Homo sapiens: one gene and its partners. The protein of the gene in region 3 purifies or fractionates together with the protein of the main gene of each other region. This does not show direct contact. Each region holds a gene or a part of one and is shown on either strand. Other genes may lie near its edges. The genes, in order: MPLKIP, CWF19L1 and DBR1.

What was found.
Region 1: the proteins of DBR1 (region 3) and MPLKIP purify together in Homo sapiens (affinity purification with mass spectrometry; 3 studies listed by BioGRID and IntAct, with this or other methods). This does not show direct contact.
Region 2: the proteins of DBR1 (region 3) and CWF19L1 purify together in Homo sapiens (affinity purification with mass spectrometry; 3 studies listed by BioGRID and IntAct, with this or other methods). This does not show direct contact.

The regions. Positions count from the first base shown.
Region 1 is NC_000007.14:40,131,569-40,138,992, reverse strand, and holds the start of MPLKIP (M-phase-specific PLK1-interacting protein), read left to right. Parts: upstream 1-4,370; 5' UTR 4,371-4,425; coding exon 4,426-4,764; intron 4,765-5,733; coding exon 5,734-5,934; 3' UTR 5,935-7,424. Other genes in the region: SUGCT (succinyl-CoA:glutarate CoA-transferase), read right to left, coding at 3,873-3,972. UniProt on the Homo sapiens protein: May play a role in maintenance of cell cycle integrity by regulating mitosis or cytokinesis.
Region 2 is NC_000010.11:100,264,583-100,271,907, forward strand, and holds the start of CWF19L1 (CWF19-like protein 1), read right to left. Parts: upstream 3,057-7,325; 5' UTR 3,012-3,056; coding exon 2,989-3,011; exon of another isoform or gene 2,944-2,988; intron 1-2,943.
Region 3 is NC_000003.12:138,171,890-138,179,441, forward strand, and holds the start of DBR1 (lariat debranching enzyme), read right to left. Parts: upstream 3,033-7,552; 5' UTR 2,907-3,032; coding exon 2,710-2,906; intron 1,738-2,709; coding exon 1,613-1,737; intron 1-1,612. UniProt on the Homo sapiens protein: Cleaves the 2'-5' phosphodiester linkage at the branch point of excised lariat intron RNA and converts them into linear molecules that can be subsequently degraded, thereby facilitating ribonucleotide turnover.

The DNA of each region.
Region 1 (7,424 bases), on a different chromosome or scaffold from region 3:
CTGATTCCTAAACTTAATCCAATAACAGATTTCTTCTCAAACATTGGCAGTATGCTGTAATCATTTTAAATTCATAACCAGAAAATGAGTTGAACAAAAAATTCAAGACTCTAGGGAAACAAAAATAGTTTGTATATTGCTAGAATTGTCTATTAAGAGTCATGTTTTCATGCCTTTTAATCTTCCCTGAAAATTTCTGTGTACTGCCATGAGTAAAATTTTTAAAAAATGTTCAACATCACCAATCATCAGAGAAATACAAATTAAAAACCACAATGAGATATCATCTTACACACAACAGAATGGCTATTAAAAAGACAAAAAAAATCACAGGATGTTGGTGAGGAAGCTGAGAAAAGGGAACTCTTCTTATACACTGTTGGTGGGAATGTAAATCAGTGCACCTTCTATGGAAAACAGTATGGAGATTTCTCACAGAACTAAAAATAGAACTACCGGAAGATGCAGCAATCCCACTACTGTGCATCTACCCAAAGGAAAAGAAATCATTACATCAAAAAGACACCTGCACTCATATGTTTATCACGGCACTATTCATAAAAGCAAAGATATGAAATCAACCTAAGTGCCCATCAATGGAGCACTAAATAAACAAAATATGGCATATATACAAAATGGAATACTATTCAGCCATAAAAAAGAATGAAATTATGTCTTTTGCAGCAACATGGATAGAACTGGGGGCCATTATCTTAAGTGAAATCACTCAGGCACAGAAAAACAAATATTGCCTGTTCTCCCTTATAAGTTGGTGGTAAATAATGCGTACATATGGAAGCAGAGTGTGGAGTGATGGGCAATGGAGACTTGGAGGGTTGGGGATGTAGAGGGAAGGGGATGGACTACAGGAGGTTGCTTGCTGGGTACAATGTGTCTTGTGCCAGTGATGGATGCACTGAAGGCCCTGACTTCACCCCAATACAATATATCAATGTAGCAAAACTGCACTTGTACCCCCATGAATATATGCCAAAACAAAATCATAACTGGCTGGGGCACAGGGGGCTCATGCCTGTAATCCCAGCACTTTGAGAGGCCCAGGTGGCTGGATTCTGTGAGCTGAGGAGTTCAAGACCAGTGTGGGCAACATGGCAAAACCCCATGTCTTCAAAAAATACAAAAATTAGCCAGGCATGGTGGCACACACTTCTGGTTTCAGCTACTTGGGAGGCTGAGGTGGAAGGATTGCTTGAGCCCAGAGAGGCAGAGGTTGCAGTGAACTGGGATTGCGCCACTGCACTCCAGCCTGGATGAAAGAGCAAGACATGTCTCAATACTTAAATAAATAAAAAATATATAGAGAGAGTATACTGCTATACGACAGAAAAACACAACTCAAACTTTTTTATTGGTCACTTTTATCTTGCTACAAAATGTACTACTAGAAGCTTAAAAAGAGCATGGCTTTTGAATTTTAATAAATTTTAGTGAACTTTAGTTAGATTGAAGTTATACAGATAAATGGGTTGATGGAATAAAGATCTATATACTCATTAGGCGTCCATCAGTTAAACTGTTTACTATTAAATTAATTTGTTGGTTGGGCATGGTGGCTCACCACACCATTTAATTGCAGAGTTTTGGGAGGCCAAGGCAGGAGAGAGGAATGCTTGAGGTGGGGAGTTCTGGGAAACACAGCAAGACCCTGTCTCTACAAAAAATAAAGAAATAAAAAAATTAGCCAGGCATGGTAGCATGAGCCTGTACTCCCAGCTACTTGGGAGACTGACGTGGGAAGATCACTTGAGCCCAGGAGGTCGAGGATGCAGTGATCTGTGATCTCACCACCGCACTCCAGCCTCGGTGACAGAGTGAGACCACCCCATGTCCATAATAATAATAATAAAGTTAATTTTGGTCCCCACCACTCTCACTTTTCTGCCCCCTCCCCTGAGTAGACTGGCTGATGATCTAAAAGGTGAAAATTACCTATGTGATGTATGTGAACCTTTTTTTTTTCCAGTGGGGTGGGGGGGCATGATAGGGTCTCGCTCTGTTACCCAGGCTGGAGTGCAGTGGCACAATAGCGGATCACTGCAGCTTCAACCTCCTAGGACTCAAGCCATCCCACCTCAGCCTCCCAAGCAACTGGGACTACAGGCGCACGCCACCAAGCCCGGCTAATTTTTTTTGTATTTTTGGTAGAAATGGGGCTTCACGATGTTGCCCAGGCTGGTCTTCAACTCCTGGGCTCAAGCAATCGTCCCACCTAGGTCATTTTATTCAATAAATATTCAAATGAGCAATTCCCAAGCATTAAGTTAAACACTAAAGACAATGTCCAGAAAGGTGAATTTTTGGCCAGGACAGAACTACTGTATTTAATAAAGTGGATAGGCTGGAGTCCTCCGACCTTAATTGTATCACTAAGCCTTAATGGCAACGTGCTACCTTGATTAAGTCTATCACTTGTATCTACAGAAGAAACGAAATGTAGTGAATTGAATTTCCACAGAATAAACAAACAAAAAAACTGTCTGTGTGTGTCTCCATTCATCAAGGAGGATAGAAGCTGAGAAGATACCACACTCGTCAGCTTGGGATGTCACAGAACATGTCAAAGAGACAGCGAGGAGTAGCAGCTACAAGAGGGTGAATGGAAATCACAGGTCCAGGCTACCCGTTAGGCTATGATTTAATGAGTCCTAAAGCTCTTTTAAGATTCTGTATCCTACGCCAGGCGCGGTGGCTCACGCATGAAATCCCAGCACTTCGGGAGGCAGAGGCAGGCGGATCACTTGAGCCCAGGAATTTGAGACCAGCCTGGCCAACATGGTGAAACCCGTCTTTACTAAAAATACAAAAAAATTAGCCGGGCATGTGGCACATGCCTGTAATCTCGGCTACTCTAGAAAGCTGAGGCAAGAGAATCGCTTGAACCCGCGAGGCAGAGGTTGTGGTGAACCAAGATCGCGCCACTGCACTCCAGCCTGGGCGACAGAGCGAGACTGTCTCAAAAAAAAAAAAAAAAATCCTGCATCCTGCAACTAATTTCAAGATTCATAGTGGGCCGCGCGCATAATCATAGAGATTACGTCTGTAATCTCAACACTTTGGGAGGCCGAGGCGGGAGGATAACTTGAGGTCAGGAATTCGAGACCAGCCTGGCCAATATGGCGAAACCCCGTCTCTACTAAAAATACAAAAATTAGTTGGGCGTGGTGGCGCATGCCTATAATCCCAGCTACTCGGAAGGCTGAAGCAGGAAAATCTCCTGAACACGGGAGGAGGAGGTTGCAGTGAGCCGAGATCGCGCCACTGCAGTCCAGCCTGGGCGAGACAGCGAGACTCCGTCTCAAAAAAAAGAGAAAAAAAGAAAAAAGGAAAAAAAAGATTCATAGTGGATTACCATTCCCAAATTCAGAGGGAGTAAAGAAAGTTCTATAACACTGTAGTAAAGCTAAATTTCATCCTCTAAATAAAATTCTGCAACAGGTAACTGTACAAGGGCATCTTTTATTGTACATGAAGTGTCAAGTTATTCAAAGCAGCGGGCTAAAGTCCTTTCTGAAATGTGGCTTGGTGTGCATTTTCGAAGTTACTTAAACTTGGCGGACGAAAGGACAGGAGTAAAGAGGCCCCAAACGCGAGCCGCGGGACGCGCAGGAGCGGGACCCCACGGCGCACGGAGCCCTCGGTCACAACAACGCACGGGACAGAGGCGACCCTGGGCGGCCAGAGCGGGGCAGGCCGGCCGCAGGCCCACGGAACGGGGTTGCAGGGAGGCGAGCAAAGCCACCGCTAAGGGGTCAGCAGAGACTTCAGACCCTAATTGCTCTCCTCAGGGCGCCCGAGGAGGCAAGCTGGGGCAGGGATCCCTTTAGCCACCCAGACCGAATCTCGGAGGGTACCTGACTGCGGGCGGCCAGTCCACAGCCCCCTCCCGCCGCCCCGGCCGGAGAAGAGGCAGGTTCTGCGCAGAGCTGCCACCCTCGCCAGCGTCGCCAGCATCGCGTGCGTCTCAGATGGCATCGGTCCCGGTGCAAGCGGCGAACTCCGTGCGGCGCCACCCGCCGCCACTGGGGGGCGCCCACGGACGCCGCAGACCCCGCCCCCGCCGGGCGGGGCTGAGCACTAGTCGCCTGCTGGGCCAGCTTCTAGTCTGTCGGTCAGACCAAGGGCACTCAGACTGGAAAGGTTGTTGCTGGGCTTGGGTGTCCGTCCTTTCCTGTCTCCTTTTCTTCCTCTTTTCACTTAAATCCACTGAGTCTCTCGCCAAGTCAGTGATTTAGGTAATCCCGCCGCCCCTGGCGGAACCTTTGTGACGCCGGAACTGATGTGCCGTAGGGTGGCTGCGGTCGGAGGACTGTTTTGGTAAAGGACTAGCAGTTCTCTGCGGAGGGCCGGTTGATACAGTTCCGGTGGGAGAACGCGGCTGCGAGGTTTTCGGCTTTGGCTCCTGATATGCAGCGACAGAATTTTCGGCCCCCAACTCCTCCTTACCCTGGTCCGGGTGGAGGAGGTTGGGGTAGCGGAAGCAGCTTCCGGGGAACCCCGGGCGGGGGCGGACCACGGCCGCCCTCCCCTCGAGACGGGTACGGGAGTCCGCACCACACGCCGCCGTACGGGCCCCGGTCTAGGCCGTACGGGAGCAGTCACTCTCCGCGACACGGCGGCAGCTTCCCGGGGGGCCGGTTCGGGTCTCCGTCCCCTGGCGGCTACCCTGGCTCCTACTCCAGGTCCCCCGCGGGGTCCCAGCAGCAATTCGGCTACTCCCCAGGGCAGCAGCAGACCCACCCCCAGGTAATAATAATAGCCAGCGTTTGCCGAGCTCTTACTTTATGGCAGGCACGGTACTAATATTCCCTTTACGTGGATTATTTTGTCTAATCCTCTCTGAGGTACTATTGTTAGCCCAATTTTGCAGATGAGCGAACTGAGGCTTAGAGAAGTTGAGTGACTTCCGGAAGATTATCCGAAAGAGTGGCAGAGCCGTACGTTCTGTTTTCGAGCCCTCGTGCTTTTAACCAATACACTGCCACCCGTACACAGATTTTCCTAATTCTCCATTTCCTCCTGTTTGCCAAAGGCCTTGCCAGTTTGTTTCAAGAAATAGTTCTTTTTCTTTTTTTTTTTTTTTTTTTTATCTTTCTTTCGAGCTACACTGGCTTCTGCTCCAACTTCCCTGAAAAGAAAATCGGTGGTAGTGGAAGTTTTCCATTCCTTTAGTGAGAGTAAATACAAAAGACAGAGAGAGTATCTCTAGCATGTCTGGGATTTCTGTGGTTTACAACTTGCAACTACGTGGTTTTCCAACTTGCTGTATTCTACACCAACCCCCTACCCCTTTTGAGCCTGGAGCTAAGGAGTAAAGAAAATGTTCATGAGCTAGAAAGGTTCTAGAAACTTTAAAACTATAGTATTGTTTTCTCCTGAAAAAAGTGAAAATTTCGAGGGAAAATTGAATATAATTACTTGATTTCATCACTGCTTGTATTTAATTACTGCAAAGTTACTACATTAGACACAAAAGTATTTGAGATGACAGTGGTCATGGAATTATAAATAAATGAGAATAACGAATTGCTTTAAGTACTTTTTTTAAAAAATAGGAACACTTGATTAAAGGAAGCATGGACTTTGTAATTGAACATTATTTAGGTTCAAGTCACAACTTTTAAGCAGCAATGTGATTCCCGCTAACCTTTAGCTAAAGGAAGAAGTACCAATTATCTTTACTAAGTGTTTTTTTAACTGATTTTTTTTCTAAAGGGTTCTCCAAGGACATCTACACCATTTGGATCAGGGCGTGTTAGAGAAAAAAGAATGTCTAATGAGTTGGAAAATTATTTCAAGCCTTCAATGCTTGAAGATCCTTGGGCTGGCCTAGAACCAGTATCTGTAGTGGATATAAGCCAACAATACAGCAATACTCAAACATTCACAGGCAAAAAAGGAAGATACTTTTGTTAACATTTCTGAAATTCAACTGGAAGCTTCATGTGTCAGGAACATCTTGGACAAAACTTTAAGTTGTGTTGATATAAATTTACCCAAAGATGATGACTTTGATTGGATAATTAGTAAGGTCTTTTTGTTATTTTTCATCGTATCAGGTATTGTTGATATTAGAGAAAAAAGTAGGATAACTTGCAACATTTAGCTCTGGAAGTACCTACCACATTTTAGAGATTTACCGTTTCCATATATTTAACATTCCTGGTTACATAATGGACATTTGTCTTTTAATGTTTTTTCAATGTTTTAAAATAAAACATTTTGTCTTCTAGCTATTGTGGTTTTGTGGTATGATAAAGAAGTAGACTTACTACAGTAATGCTTTGTAGTCACTTAGAGTTCATAGGTAAATGTTTTGCAAATTATTTTTGAAAATGAAATAGGTAAACCATCCTTTGAGCTGTAGACAGCTCTGTATTTGTTCGTAAATAATGAGGATGAGAATAACAGAGTTCTGTTCATACTCATTTTATCTAATGCTTCTGTTAAAATGCATTAAAACTTGAAGCCCCAGAAACCCATTTAAGCATAACTTTATACTCATTTAACTGGAAAAGGCAAGAATAGACCATGCATTGCTAAATCAAAGTGTTCTATCTGAATTTCTCTATACCTCTTAGCATTATGGAGTTAGTTTCTCTTGAGGCCAAAGAAGATAGCTACCAGCAGCCTCAAATCACTTCCATTGCAAAAAGAACATCTCTCATCTCCATCAATCCAAGAGAAGACAAATTTGCCATACTTAGATCATGTTTCTGTATTATTGAACCAATTAACTGTGGCCAAGGCCACAGTGAGACCTAATTAACTTGAATCATGGACACATCACCATAATGAGACAGGATTCTGTGACCTTGAACACCACTGGGCCTACCTGGAGTAGAGAAGTGGTTTTCCAAATTAAGGGATGCTATGGATATATACCTATAGTTCTGGAGAGAAAAATATGGAAGAATTGTTACCCCAACTATTTTTTAAAAATCAAGTGGTTTTTTGTTTGTTTTTTGAGATGGAGTCTGTTGCCCAAGCTGGAGTGCAGTGGTGCAATCTTGGCTCACTGCAACCTTCGGCTCCTGAGTAGCTGGGACTACAGGCACATGTCACCATGCCTGGCTAATTTTTGTATTTTTAGTAGAGACCATGTTTTGTTTTTTTTGTTTGTTTTGTTTTGTTTTTGAAATAGGGTCTCACTCTGTTGCCCACGCTGGAGTGCAGTGGCGCAATCTTGGCTCACTGCAACGTCCGCCTCCCAGGTTCATACGAGTCTCCCGCCTCGACCTCCTGAGTAGCTGGGAATACAGGCACGCGCCTGGCTCATTTTTGTATTTTGAATAGAGATGGGGTTTCACCGTGTTGGCCAGGCTGGTCTCGATTGAACTCCTGGTCTCAAGTGATCCCCTACCTTGGCTTCCCAAAGTGCTGGGATTTCAGGCATGAGCCACCGT
Region 2 (7,325 bases), on a different chromosome or scaffold from region 3:
CTGTTTAGAGTACACTCCTACGTATTCAAAAAAAAAAAAAAAAAGTTGACTGTAAAAAAGCCTCAGGCAGGTCCTTCAGGAAGTATTCCAGAGGGCACTGTTATCATAGGAGATGACAGCTTCATGCATGTTATTACTACTGAAGCCCTTCCAGTGGGACAAGATATGGAGGTGAACAGCAGTGATACTGATGATCCTGACCCTGTGTAGGCCTAGACTCGTGTGTGTGTCTTAGTTTGCAACAAAACAAGTTTAAAGCCAGGCACAGTGGCTCACGTCTGTAATCCCAGCACTTTGGGAGGCTGAGGCAGGAGGGTAACTTGAGCCCAGGAGTTCAAGACCAGCCTGGGTAACATAGCAAAACCCCCTCTCTACAAAAAATACAGAAATTAGCCAGGTGTGGTAGCTTCCGCCTGTAGTCCCAGCTACTCAGGAGGCTGAAGTGGGAGAATCACTTGAGCCCAGGAGGTTGAGGTTGCAGTGAGCCGTGATTGCACAATTGCACTCCAGCCTGGGCGACAGTGAGACCCTGTCTCCAAAAAAAAAAAAAGTTTAAAAGGTAAAAAGAAAAAAAAAGTAATAGAAAAAAGCTTGTAGAATAAGGATATAAAGAAAATATTTTTGTACAGCTGTACAATGTGTTTTATGTCTTAGCTGTGTTATAACAAGAGTCAAAAAGTGTAAAAAAACTTAAAGTTTATAAAGTAAAAGTTACAGTAAACTAAGGTTTACTGTTGAAAATAATATTTTAATAAATTTAATATAGGTGAAGTGTACAGTATTCATAAAGTCTACAATACTGTAAAGTAATACATTCACTCACCTCTTACTAACTCACTCAGAGAAACTTTCAGTTCTGCAAACTCCATTCATGATAAGTGTCCTACACAGGTTGTGCCCTTTTTTTTTTTCCTGTATACAGTATTTTCTTTTTTTCTTTTTCTTTTTTTTTTTTTTTGAGACAGTCTCGCTCTGTCGCCCAGGCTGGAGTGCAGTGGTGCGATCTCGGCTCACTGCAACCTCTGCCTCCCAGGCTCAAGCCATTCTCCTGCCTCAACCTCTTGAGTAGCTGGGATTACAGGCGCCCGCTACCACACCCGGCTAATTTTTGTATGTTTAGTAGACACAGGGTTTCACCATGTTGGCCAGGCTGGTCTTGAACTTCTGACCTCAGGTGATCCACCCACCTCGGCCTCCCAAAGTGTTGGGATTACAGGCATAAGCCACCACACCCGGCCAGGTGTTTTCACTGTACCCTTTCTATATTTAAATACAAAAATGCTTACCATTGTGTTACAATTGCCTACAGTATTCAGTACAGTAACTTGACGTACAGCTATACCATTTAGCCTAGGTGTACAGGAAGCCATACCATCTAGGTCTCTGGAAGTACACTCAAAGATGTTCGCACAATGACGAAATCGCCTACCAACTCATTTCTCAGAACATAACCCTGCTGTTAAGCAATGGATTACTCTTATTTCCCAAGGCTCAATCCTAACATTCTCGGGAAGCCTTCTTGACTCCTATCATTAAGCCAAATACCCCTCTTATGCACTCTCCCAGATTCACGAATATTTTCTTCCCAAAAGTTACCACTATTGCAATTTTTTTTTTTTTTTTTTTGAGACAGGGTTTCAATCTGTCACCCAGCCTGGAGATCAGCAGCACGATCACAGCTCACTGCAGCATCGACCTCCCCAGGCTCAGGTGGTCCACCTGCTTCAGCCTCCCAATTAGCTGGGACCACCACGCCCGGCTAATTTTTTTTTTTTTCTGTATTTTTTGTAGAAACGGGGCCTTGCTATATTGCCCAGGCTGGTCTTGAATTCCTGGACTCAAGTGATTCTCTTGCCTTGGCCTCCGGAGTCGCTGGGATTATAGGCGTGAGCCACTGCGCCTGGCCCTATCACTATGGTAACTTTACATTTATCTGAATTCCTTTTTTTTTAGACGGAGTCTCACTCTGTTACCTAGGCTGGAGTGCAGAGGTGCAGTGTCGGCTCACTGTGCAACCTCCGCCTCCGGGTTCAAGCGATTCTCCTGCCTCAGCCTCCCAAGTAGCTGGGATTACAGGCACGCGCCACCACGCCTGGCTAATTTTTTTTTTTTGTATTAGTAGAGACGGGGTGTCACCACGTTGGCCAGGCTGGTCTCGAACTCCTGACCGCAAGTGATCCGCCCGCCTCAGCCTCCCAAAGTGCTAGGATTACAGGCGTGAGCCACCGCGCCCGGCCATTATTTGTATTGTTTTTTGTTTGTTTTGTTTTGTTTTGTTTTGTTTTGAGAGTCTCGTTCTGTCGCCCAGGCTGGAGTGCAGTGGCGCGATCTCGGCTCACAGCAACCTCCGCCTCCCGGGTTCAAGCGATTCTCCTGCCTCAGCCACCGCGCCCGGCCCATTATCTGGATTCTTTAGTACCTGTTCCTCTAGACTCTACGCTCCATTAAAGCAGGAACTCCATCTGTTGCAACACCTAGCACAGCGTCCGGCACACTGCAGTTCTTCAATAAATACTTGCTGCATGAAGCCCTCTCTTCACCACCACCCCCACCCCTCCTCCTCGCAAAAAAAAAAAAAAAAAAAAAATGCCCCAGGGAAGGGTCCCTATCTACTCTGTCCACCACTGCCCAGGGCCCATCAGTGGGCCCAATGGCTATTTGGCGAGTAAATAAATGGGGTCAGGAGAAACGAAGGGGAAAGGATGTGTCAGAGGCCAGGACTGCCCCCTAAGATGGAGGAGGCCTAACTCTGGGAGCTTCCGCCTCTCCGAACGAGCGTCGCCAAGAGAAACCCCCTCAGAAGCGAAAAGGGCCAGGAAAAGAGGTCAGCCCCGGCCAGGCAAAGACATCACCTAAGCTCCCCAGCAGCCCCGTGTCTCTCCGCCTTTTCCTTCTCCCTTCCCGTCATGGGAAAGACTCCCGCCCGTGTCGTCACCTACACACACGAAAGAGACACAGGGAGAGAGGCTTCCATTCACGGTCACTCACAGGCGCAGCGGTTTCTGTGCCATCTGTCCGAATAGTATGGGTTGCGACTGCCACCTAAAATTGGGAATGCGAATCCGCGCTCCCCGGAAAAATGCGACCGCGCAACAATCAGACGTCAGCGCCCTCCAGCCAATAACGGTTCACTTACTTACGGAGACCGCCGAGGGACAGAAGCCTCTCTCAGGTGTTTGCGCCTCAAGGAAGAATCAAGAGGGAAAGGGAGGAACGAAGGGAGAAAGAGAAAGTGACCGAAAGGATTCCAACTATGATTTTTTAAATTAAATTTCAGAGCACTTGAAGCGAATGAATGGCTAGGAAGTACAGAGCACAATGTCGGGTTCTAACCTAACCTAACCTAACCTAACCTAACCTAACCATATCGGTCTAGTGGGCAAGACAGACCCCCTCTATCCACGTTTTTTGTAAGTTTTTAACCTATCAAAAAGTTAAGAGGCCGGGCGTGGACGCTCACGCCTATAATCCCAGCACTTTGGAAGGCTGAGGCGGGCGGATCACTTGAGGTCGGGCGTTCAAGACCAGCCTGGGCAACATGGTGAAACCCCGTCTCTTCTAAAAATACAAAAATTAGCCGGGCATGGTGGAGAATTGCTTCAACCAGGGAGGCGGGGGTTGCAGTGAGTCAAGATCGCGCCATTGCACTCCAGCCTGGACAACAAGAGCGAAACTCCGTCTCAAATTAAAAAAAAAAAAGTTAAAAGAATAATGGCTATTACCTTGATTCAGTAAGTCTCAGCATGTTGGCAAATTTGCTTGTGTTCTCTTTCTCTCAAAGTGCCCAAGCCCTTCCATTCTCACTCAATCATTTGAAAGTAAAGTACAGGCCGGGCGCAGTGGCTCACGCCTGTAATCCCAGCACTTTGGGAGATCCAGACCATCCTGGCTAACACGGTGAAACCCCCTCTCTACTAAAAATACAAAAAATTAGCCGGGCGTGGTGGCACGCACCTGCAGTCCCAGTTACTCGGGAGGCTGAGGCAGGGGAATCGCTTGAACCCAGGAGGAGGAAGTTGCAGTGAGCCGAGATCGCGCCACTTCACTCCAGCCTGGGCGACAGAGCGAGACTCCGTGTCAAAAAATAAAATAAAATAAAGTGCGGACAACAGGAATACATCTCCATTTATCTCCTAAGATTAGGATATCCTCCTACATAACCGTAATACTATTAACACAGCTAAGAAAATTAACATTAATTATTCAATAATATTACCTAATATACATCCATATTTAAAGTTCTCCATATTTCCCTACAAACTGATTTTATATTTGGGGCTTGTTTTGATTCAGATGCAATCAAGTTTCACACTTGCATTTGGTTCTGTCTCTATTTTAATCTACAAAAGCCCTCCTACCTATTTGGTTTTAGTTTTTGTAATATTGACTTTTTTGAAGGGTTCAGGCCAAGTGGTAGGAAACAAGTGTGTAAGGAAATGGAAACAAGAGAGAGTTCCTGACGACTGCGGGGAAAGGAAGACTCATCAAGGGCATCTAAATAATTCAAAATTAATAAAACATAAGATTAAAGAAGAACTACAGGCCAGGCACAGTGGCTCATGCCTGTAATCCCAGCACTTTGGGAGGCTGAGGCGGGAGGTTCACTTGAGAACAGGAGTTCAAGGCCAACCTGGGCAACATAGCCAGACCTCGTCTCTACTACAAATTTAAAAAGAAAAAAAAAAAAGTTAGCTGGGCATGGTGGCCGTATGCCTGTACTCCCAGGTACTCCAGAGGCTGAGGTGGGGAGATCACTTGAGCCCAGGAGATGGAGGCTTCAGCGAGCTATTACCTTGCCACTGCACTCCAGCCTGGGTGACACAGCAAGCCCTGTCTCAATAACCAAACAAAACTACAAAGTTCTGGCTTTTCCCACAGCCTACAAGCCTTCTTTTTTGTTTGTTTCTTGCCTCATAACTGGTGGCTCTGCTTTGCTGGCACATAAGCATGCATTTTTTCCTACTCTTTGGATAATACAGCACTGCCCAGGAGTAGCACTCAAGACTGAATCTTGAAGAAGAGTAGAAGTTTGCCAAACATGAGCAGGTAATAATTCCCAGAAGAGGATACAAAAGTAAGACATAAAAACTCATCGTATTGAAAAATCAAAAGACTCCACGAAAAAGACTGTTAGAAATAATAAACGAATTCAGTAAAAGTTTCAGGATACCAAATCAACATACAAAAATCAGTAGCATTTATATGCACCAACAGTAAACAATCTGAAAAAGAAATCAAAAAAGCAATCTCATTTACAACAGCTACAAAGAATATAAACTACGTAGGAATCAATTTAACTAAAGAAATGAAAGATCTATACAAGGAAAACTATACAATACTGATGAAAGAGGACACACACACAAAAAGGAAAGATATTCCACGCTTATGGATTAGAAGAATTAGGCGGGCAGATCACGAGGTCAGGAGATCGAGACCTTCCTGGCTAACACGGTGAAACCCCGTCTCTCCTAAAAATACAAAAAAATTAGCCAGGCGTGGTAGCGGGCGCCTGTAGTCCCAGGTACTCGGAAGGCTGAGGCAGCAGAATGGCATGAACCCGCGAGGCAGAGCTTGCAGTGAGCGGAGATCCAGCCACTGCACTCCAGCCTCTAGCCTGGGCAACAGAGCGAGACTCCGTCTCAAAAAAAAAAAAAAGAAAGAAAGAAAAAAGACAACACTACCTAAAGCAATTTACAGATTCAGTCCAATCCCCATCAAAATACAAATGGCATTCTCTAGATAGAGCAAGGATCCCCAACCCCCGGGCTATGGACCAGTACCCATCAGAAACCAGGACGCACAGCAGGAGGCGAGCGGTGGGCAAGTGAGAATAACCGCCTGAGCTCACTTCCTATCAGATTAGTGGTGGCATCAGATTCTTACAGAGGCTGGAACCCTATTGTGAACTGCACATGCGAGGGTTCTACGGCGCTGCGTACCTTACAAGAATCTGATGCCTGATGATCTGAGGTGGAACAGTTTCATCCCCAAACCATCCCCCCATCCCTACTTTCAGCTCTCTTTTTCTAATGTAAATGTCATGTACGAGCGTTTGTTTTTTTTGTTTTGTTTTGTTTTGTTTTTGTTTTTGTTTGAGACTGAGTCTCGCTCTGTCGCCCAGGCTGCAGTGCAGTGGCGCGATCTACGCTCACTGCAAGCTCCGCCTCCCGGGTTCACGCCATTCTCCTGCCTCAGCCTCCAGAGTAGCTGGGACTACAGGCACCCGCCACCATGCCTGGCTAATTTTGTTTTTGTATTTTTAGTAGAGACGAGTTTTCACCGTGTTAGCCAGGATGGTCTCGATTTCCTTGACCTCGTGATCCGCCCGCCTCGGCATCCCAAAGTGCTGGGATTACAGACGTGAGCCACCGCGCCCGGCCACAATAGTTTTATTTGACGTCAGGACTGTTTTGTAGACCGAGGTGTGATAGATGTGGCACGCACCAGCCACGGTTTCCACCGTCCCCAGAGCGTGGAGAGGCAGCGCCACTGCTCTCAAGGTTAATGACAACTCAATAAAGCACTGCTTTTATTTTTTGCAGTCTTCAATTTGAGAAAGGCCAGAAATAATGTTTTCAATAAATATGGTTCATACCATTAAAAAAAAAAATCCCCCCGCGTCCACGGAAAAATTGTCTTCCATAAAAGCGGTCCCTGGTGCCAAAAAGATTAGGGACTGCTGCTCTACAGAAATAGAAATAGAAAAAACAATCCTAAAATCTATATGGAACCACAAAAGACCCCAAAGAGCCAAAGCAATCCTGAGCAAAAAGCACAAAGCTGAAGGCATCATACTGCCCAACCTCAAAATCTACTACAAAGCTATGGTAACCCAATCAGTATGGTACTGACATAAAAATAGACACATAGACCAATGGAACATATATAAATCCATGCATTTACAGCCAACTCATTTTATGTCAATACCAAAAGTACAAAGGTGCCAAGAACATTCAATGAGGAAAGGACAGTCTCTTCAATAAATGATTCTTGGAGAACTGGATAGCCCTATACTGAAGAATGAAACTCAACTCTATCTCTCACCATATACAAAAATCGCATCAAAATGGATAAAGACTTAAACCTAACACATGAAACTATGAAGCTACCAGAAGAAAATACTGGAGAAATGTTCCAAGATATTGATCTGGGCAAAAATTTTTTGTATAAGACTTCAAAAGCACAGGCAACAAAAGCAAAAATAGACTAATAGGATTATATCAAACTAAAAAGCTCTGCACAGCAAAGGAAACAATCAACAAAGTGAAGAGGCAACCCACAGAATGGAAGAAAATATTTGCAAACTATCCATCTGACAAGAGATT
Region 3 (7,552 bases):
TATAACAGTATATAAAGGTAAGGTCTGGAATTAGATGAGCCAAAACACTAAGTAGATTCTGGAAGGGACAAATGAGATAGGGTACTGAAAGTGAAACAGACATAATTTGGTACCTAACTGAATACACGGGTGAGGTAGTGGGAGGTGGAAAATGTCCTATGATGGATTTACATGTATAAACCTGAAAATCAACAGGTATAAGGTATAAAGAACCTACAGCTTCTAGTTTCATTTCTGATTGATCATCTTCTGACAATTTCACTTCTTCACAATATTGTAATATAGGATGAATACATCAAAAGATGATCAGTAAGTAGCAAAGTAGGGAAACTAAATTTCTGAAATATGATCTCATCATTGGTAAAATCTATAAACTGTTCTAGAAAGAATATACATTTAAATAAAGGGATGAAGCTGGGTGCGGTGGCTCATCCCTGTAATCCCACCACTTTGGAGGCCCAGGTGGGCGGATCACTTTGAGCTCATGAGTTCGAGACCAGCCTGGACAACATGGCCAAACTCAGTCTCCACAAAAAAATACAAAAAAACAAAAAAATTAGCCGGGCGTGGTGGTACACGCTTGCAGTCACAGCTACTTGGGAGGCTGTGGTGGGAGGATGGCTTGAGCCTGGAAGGCGAAGGTTGCAATGAGCTGAGATCAGGCCACTGCACTCCAGCCTGGGCAACAGAACCAGACCTTGTCTCGAAAAATAAAGGGATGAAAAGGCTATATAGTTTATAGGGGCCAATATTGAGACAATCTAATCAAATCTGAAAATCTAAAAGCAGATTATAGGAAATGCAAAGGATAAAAGGAATCCAATCAGCTAAATCCTGAATGCAGGAAATGCTGCAAGACAAATTTCCTGTTTTCTTCAGCAAGTAAATGGCATGAAAAAGCGAGACAGGGAGACTATTTTAGTCTAATAGACTTCAGAGTCATGACAACCAAATGAAATGGGCTGGCCTTGTCTGGGTCCTATTTAAACCAATTGTAAAGCAGACATCTTTACATTAAGCAGGGAAATCTGACCACGAACATGGCAATAGATAATGATTACTTCAGTTAAGTATAATAACAGTACTGTAGTAGTATTTTTAAAGATCCTTATCACTTAAAAACATGTACTGAAATATGTATAAGTGAAATAATCTAACGGTTGGACTTGCTTTAAATACTCTAGTCATCTCTTCCCACAAAAAAAAAAAAAAAAATCCAGGAGATTGCAATATAATAGTCGTTGAAGCTGGTTAACAGGTACTGAGATTCATCATACTATTCTCTACTTTTGTGTATGCTTAAGAATTTCTATTAATAAAAGTTTAAGGTCTTTAATTCAATAAAAATTGTAAGAAAAAATGAAGGGACTACAAATAGTGTGTGAGGTCTTTGCAATTATATTAGCTAGTGCTTAAAACACTAGATGAAGGGCATATTTTCATGATCAACCATTTAATAATTAACTATCTTAATTAAATTTTCACGATTAAGTATTTAAATTAATGACATTCTCCAAACACCATACATGTCAAGACACAGTCCAACTAACGCAAATCCTGATAAGCTCTTCCATCCCAGGAAAAAAAAGTATCCACAAACACAATCACATACCTAAATAATAAATGTTTGGTGCCACCCAGCCACCATAGGGTAACTCTTGCAAATGATTTGAGGCTTCATGGTTTCCCCCAATGAAGAGCGTGAGAACTGGAGCCTTTTTCTCTCCAGAGTAATACCTAGAACATAAGAGCAAAGTCAGTTACCACAATTAGGCATAGCAGAAAAGCAAATAAGTTCCGAAAAAAAAAAAGAAACTGAGTTCATCATAAAAAGTTAAAAAGCTCTTTCAAAAGGAATTGCCTGGGGCTGGGCGCGGTGGCTCCCTCCTGTAATCCCAGCACTTTTGATGGCCGACACAGGCGGATCCCCTGAGGTCAGGAGTTCGAGACCAACCTGGCCAATGTGGTGAAACCCCGTCTCTACTAAAAATGCAAAAATTAGCTGGGTGTAATCCCAGCTACTCGGGAGGCTGAGGTGGGAGAATCGCTTGAACCCAGGAGACGGAGGTTGCAGTGGGTCAATATCGCGGTACTGCACTCCAGCCTGGGCAACAAAGCGAAACTCTGTCTCAAGAAAAAAAAAAAAAAAAAAAAAAGGAATTGCCCAGTATCCATCCTTGCCCTTAGGAATGAAGAGCTTCCACCTTGAGCCTCAAGTCAGTGCCCGTTCAATTAAGTCAAGAACTGTTTCGAGTTCATTGCCATAACCTCATCTTCTAGAACCACAACAAGCACATAGCAGGGGCCCAGTAAAAACTTCAGGATCATTGAATGAACTAATTCCAGAGTCCTATCAAGTACAAGGTAGCTATCTAAACCTGTCAGCTTCTTCCTCCAGGTTATCCCCTCCCAGGCTTCGACACCCTTTGAAATGGATAAGATGTGTATGGAAAGAAGGAAAGTGACATTTCCTAAGCACCTAATGAGATAGGGTGCTAGTGAAACTGACATAATTTGGTACCTAACTGAATACAGTACCGAACTGAATACATTTCCCGCCTCCCACTACCTCACCCCTGTATTCAGTTAGGCACCAATTAGAGATACAGAGAGAACAAAGACAGGATCTAAGGGAAACAGGCAGCCAGTGGCAGAGGGAACCCAGTCCCACCCCCCCACCGCCAAGTCCGGGCCCGGCCGCGTCCTCACCTGTAGAAGGTTTGCATGTGACGATACTTGGGCGGCACGGCCATGCAGCGTAGATCCGCCTCGTTGCGCACCGCCTGGAAGTCGCCGCAGCACAGCAAGAGGTCGACAGGCCCCGGGCCGCGCCGCTCTGCCAGCGCCAGCGTCTCATAGATCTTATCCAGCTCGCCGTGGCAGCAGCCAGCCACAGCCACCCGCATTCTGCCGGCCTGAGGAGGTGAGCGCTGCCTGCAACGCCCTACACCACAGCCAGCCCAGGACCGACTGATCGCTCAGCTCCCGCCAACTTTAATAAGTATAGCCACCGCCTGGGTGTAGACTCCTGCAAAATAATTCACTTCCGGTTTCCAGATCTCGCGAGAGAGGGACCGGGAAGGTCAAACCTAATTCTGGGATCCCAGGGAACTTATTTTCTTTTTTTCCTTTTTTCTTTTTTTTTAATTATTGTTTTATGCAGTCAATATTTTTTTGTATATACATCCACAAATGTACTCTTTCCATCCTTACTCTTTTCTTCCTGGATTTCCATTTTTCTCTTTGGAATCATTTTTCTTCTGTCTGAAGAGCTCAGTTTAAGTTTTCCTGTTTGTTTAGTGTAGGCCGACGACAGATTAATTTTTTTCTAGATATTTGTTTGTTTAAAAATTTCTTTCCACTCTGGGGAAAATGGTGAAACCCTGTCTCTACTAAAAATACAAAAATTAGCTGGGCGCAGTAGCGCACGTCTGTAATCACAGCTACTTCAGAGGCTGAGGCAGGAGAATCCCTCAAACCCAGGAGACGGAGGTTGCAGTGACCTGAGATCGCGCCCCTGCACTCCAGCTTGGGCGACAGAGCGAGACTCCGTCTAAAAAAAAAAAAAAGAGACAAAAGAGAAAGAGAGAGAGAAGAAAAGAAAAGAAGCCAGTGTGCTGGCTCACACCTGTAATCCCAGCACTTTGGGAGGCAGAGGCGGGCGGCTCACGAGGTCAGGAGTTTGAGACCAGCATGGCCAACATGGTGAAACCCTGTCTCTACTAAAGATACAAAAAATTAGCTGGGCGTGGTGGCGCACACCTGTAATCCCAGCTACTTGGGAGGCTGGGGCAGGAGAATCGCTTGAACCCAGGAGGCAGAGGTTGCAGTGATCTGAGATCGTGCCATTGCACTCCAGCCTGGGTGACAGGGTGAGACTCCGTCTAAAAAAAAAAAAAAGAAAAAGAAAGAAAGAGATGTCTTTGTTTCACCTTAATTCATAAAGGGTGTGTTTACTGAGTACCGAATACCAGTTAAGCAGTGTGTGTGTGTGTGTGTGTGTGTGTGTGTGTGTGTGGTTTTTTTTTTACAAAGCATTTCAAAAATAGCATTCTATTATCTTCTGGCTTGCATTATCTTCTACTGAGAAGTCACCTATAAACTTAAGGTTTTTTTTCACTGAAAGTAATGTGGGTTTTTTGTTTGTTTGTTTGTTTTTTGTTTTTTTGAGACGGTCTCTCACTCTGTTGCCCAGGCTGGAGGCAGTGGCACGATCTCGGCTCACTGCAACCTCCGCCTCCCCAGTTCAAGCGATTCTCCTGCCTCAGCCTCCCAAGTAGCTGGGATTACAGGTGCACACCACCATGCCCAGCTAATTTTTTGCATTTTTAGTAGAGACAGGGTTTCACCATGGTGGCCAAGCTGGTTTCGAACTCCTGACCTCAAGTGATACGCCCACCTCGGCTTCCCGAAGTGCTAGGATTACAGGCGTTAGCCACCGCGCCCAGCCAGTAATGTGTCTTTTTCTTTGCTATTTACTGTTTTCTCTTTCTCTACTTTCTCTCCCTACTCCTTAAAGCTATTTTAATAAAATATATCTAGGTGGTTTTTTTTTTGAACTTTACTCATTTATGCTTTCTGAATCTATAGCTTGGTATCTTTTTTCAGTTTTGGAATATTCTTGGTCAGTATCTACTTAAATGTTGCTTTTTTTTCTGTCTTTTCCTACTCCTTTGGAATTTTTCCATGGTATTTTACCTATCTTTTATTTCTATTCCATAGTTCTCATTTTTATCAGTGTTTTATTTTGGATAGTTTCTAATAACCTCTCTTCTAGTTTACTAATCCTATTTTGTTCTATGTCCAATGTACAAACTCATTTATTAATGTTTTAACATTATAGTCCTTTTCAATTTTAGGATTTATATTGGATTCTTTTCCAGTGAAGCCAATAGTTTAAAGAGATTCTTTATCTTTTAATTTATTTCCTTCATCTTTTCCTCTCTTTCTCTCATATATTAATCATTGTTATTTTAGGTTGCCTGTCTTCTAAGCCCAATATCTTACTTATCTGCAGAGCTGATTCTATTGTCTGTTTCTGTTTCATTGGATTCTTAGTTTAAAAATCTCGTTTTTTGGCCGCGGTGACTCCCACCTGTTGTCCCAGCACTTTGGGAGGCCAAGGTGGATGGATCTCTTGAAGCCAGGAGTTCGAGAGCAGCCTGGCCAACATGGTGAAACCCTGTCTCTACTAAAAATAAAGAACTTAGCTGGGGGTGGTGGCGCATGCCTGTAATCCCAGCTACTTGGGAGGCTGAGGCGGGAGAATCGTTTGAACTCGGGAGGCGGAGGTTGCAGTGAGCCGAGATTGCGCTGCTGCACTCCAGCCTGGGCTACAGAGTGAGACCCTGTCTCAAAAAGAATAAATAAATAAATAAATATCTCGTTTGTGTGTGTGTGTGTATATATATATATATATATATATTCCAGGATACATGTGCAGGTTATGCAGATTTGTTACACAGGTAAACGTGTGCCATGATGATTTACTGCGCCTATCAACCTATCACCTAGGTATTAAACCCAGCATACATTAGCTATTTTTCCTGATGCTCTCCGTACCTTGCAGATCACTTGAGGCCAGGAGTTCGAGACCAGCCTGGCCAACATGTATCTCTCCAAAAATACAAAAATTAGCAGGGCGTTGTGGCACATGCCTGTAGTACCAGCTACTGGGGAGGCTGAGGCAGGAGAATTGCTTGAACCTGGAAGACAGAGGCTGCAGTGAGCGGAGATTGCACCACTGCACTCCAGCCTGGGGGACAGAGCAAGACCCTGTCTCAAAAAAAAAAAAAAAAAAGAGAGAAGAAAAGAGGATTCTTGGGCTTGGTCTGTCTTCACCTATCTTTACAGGTCCTTGAGTCCTAGCAGTCTCACGGATGATAAAATTCTAAATTAGGATAGTAAATAGAATCCCCAATAGTAGGAATTTAGTTTGATAAAATTAAACTAAGATAAACGAGCAAGCAGGCGCAAATGGCGAATTCCTTAGGACGAACTTCTCAAGGCAAAGACAATTGCCTGAAAGTGAATCAGAATTTAAAAAAATTTTGACACCCCAAAATAATTATTTTTAAATAAAACTTTAAAACCCACCAAGGATTTAAAAACTATCTCCCTCCGCCGGGTGCGGTGGCTCACGCCTGTAATCCCAGCACTTTGGGAGGCCAAGGTGGGCGGATCATGAGGTCAAGAGTTTAAGACCAGCCTGGCCAATAGGGTGAAACCCCGTCTCTACTAAAAATACAAAAATTAGCCGGGCGTGGTGGCGCACGCCTACTACTACTCCTCCTCCCAGCTATTGGGGAGGCTGAGGCAGGAGAATTGCTTGAACCCAGGAGGGAGAGGTTGCAGTGAGCCGAGATCACGCCACTGCACTCCAGCCTGGGAAAGACAGAGCGAGACTCCGTCTCAAAACAAACAAACAAAAACAAAACAAAACAAACAAACAAACAAAAAAACGACCTCCCTCTAAGAGTTTCTAAAATTATCAGTTTTTTTTTTCTTTAAGTGGCCAAGGACTTTTTATTTTCCTGACAAATAGTTTTCCTAACTAGAATGCAAGCTAAATGAAAGTAGGTGAATATTTCTAAAACTTTCAGAAAGGAAGATGACCAAACTGGTAAATAAAGAATGAGTGGGCTAGGCGGAGTGGCTCACACCTGTAAGCTCAGCACTTTGGGAGGCCGAGGCAGGCGGATCACTTGAGGTCAGGAGTTCCAGACCAGCCTGGCCAACATGGTGAAACCCTGTCTCTACTAAAAATACAAAAAATTAGCTGCGCGTGGTGGTGAGTGCCTGTAATCCCAGCTACTCGGGAGGCTGAGGCAGAAGAATCGCTTGAACTTGGGAGGCAGAGGTTGCAGACACTATACTCCAGCCTGGGCAACAGAGCTAGACTCTGTCTCAAAAAAAAAGAAAAAAAGAAAGAAAGAAAGAAAGAAAAAGTGACCAAGACAAAAACAAGCAAAGAAAACACCTCTGGAAAACTTAATCAAGAAAAGATAATCTAATCAAGGCAGTACACAGAACAATAAATCCATCTCTTCCCATTTAAAAAAACTAATTAAAATGAATATTATAGGAAAAAACACCAAAATTAATTAAAAATGAAGCAGTACATGTAAACAGAACAATGATAATAGGAGACACTGTAAAGATTATCAAAGATACGAAGACATTGTGTCCAGAGTGATGTTGGAGCAATTTATTTCAAATTTACAAGGAAGATATGATTTTCATGATATTTAAATTGATCAGGAAGGTAGAAAAATATGGAAATCTAATATTTCTGATTAGTTTTAAATATTTTATTTTCCTTCTGTATAGATTTTGTTGAAATATAATAGAACAATGGATGCTTTTTACATTGTTAAATTTAACTTTTGCATTTTATTTTTAATCTATGGGAATTGTTTTCCTCTAGATCTTTTTTCTCCATGTAAAAAATTTTAATTAAGGTATAGCTTACTTAAAGTAACATAAATAACATTTTAAGTGCACAGTGTGATGATGCACATATGACAACCACCCATATCAAGATATAAAATAT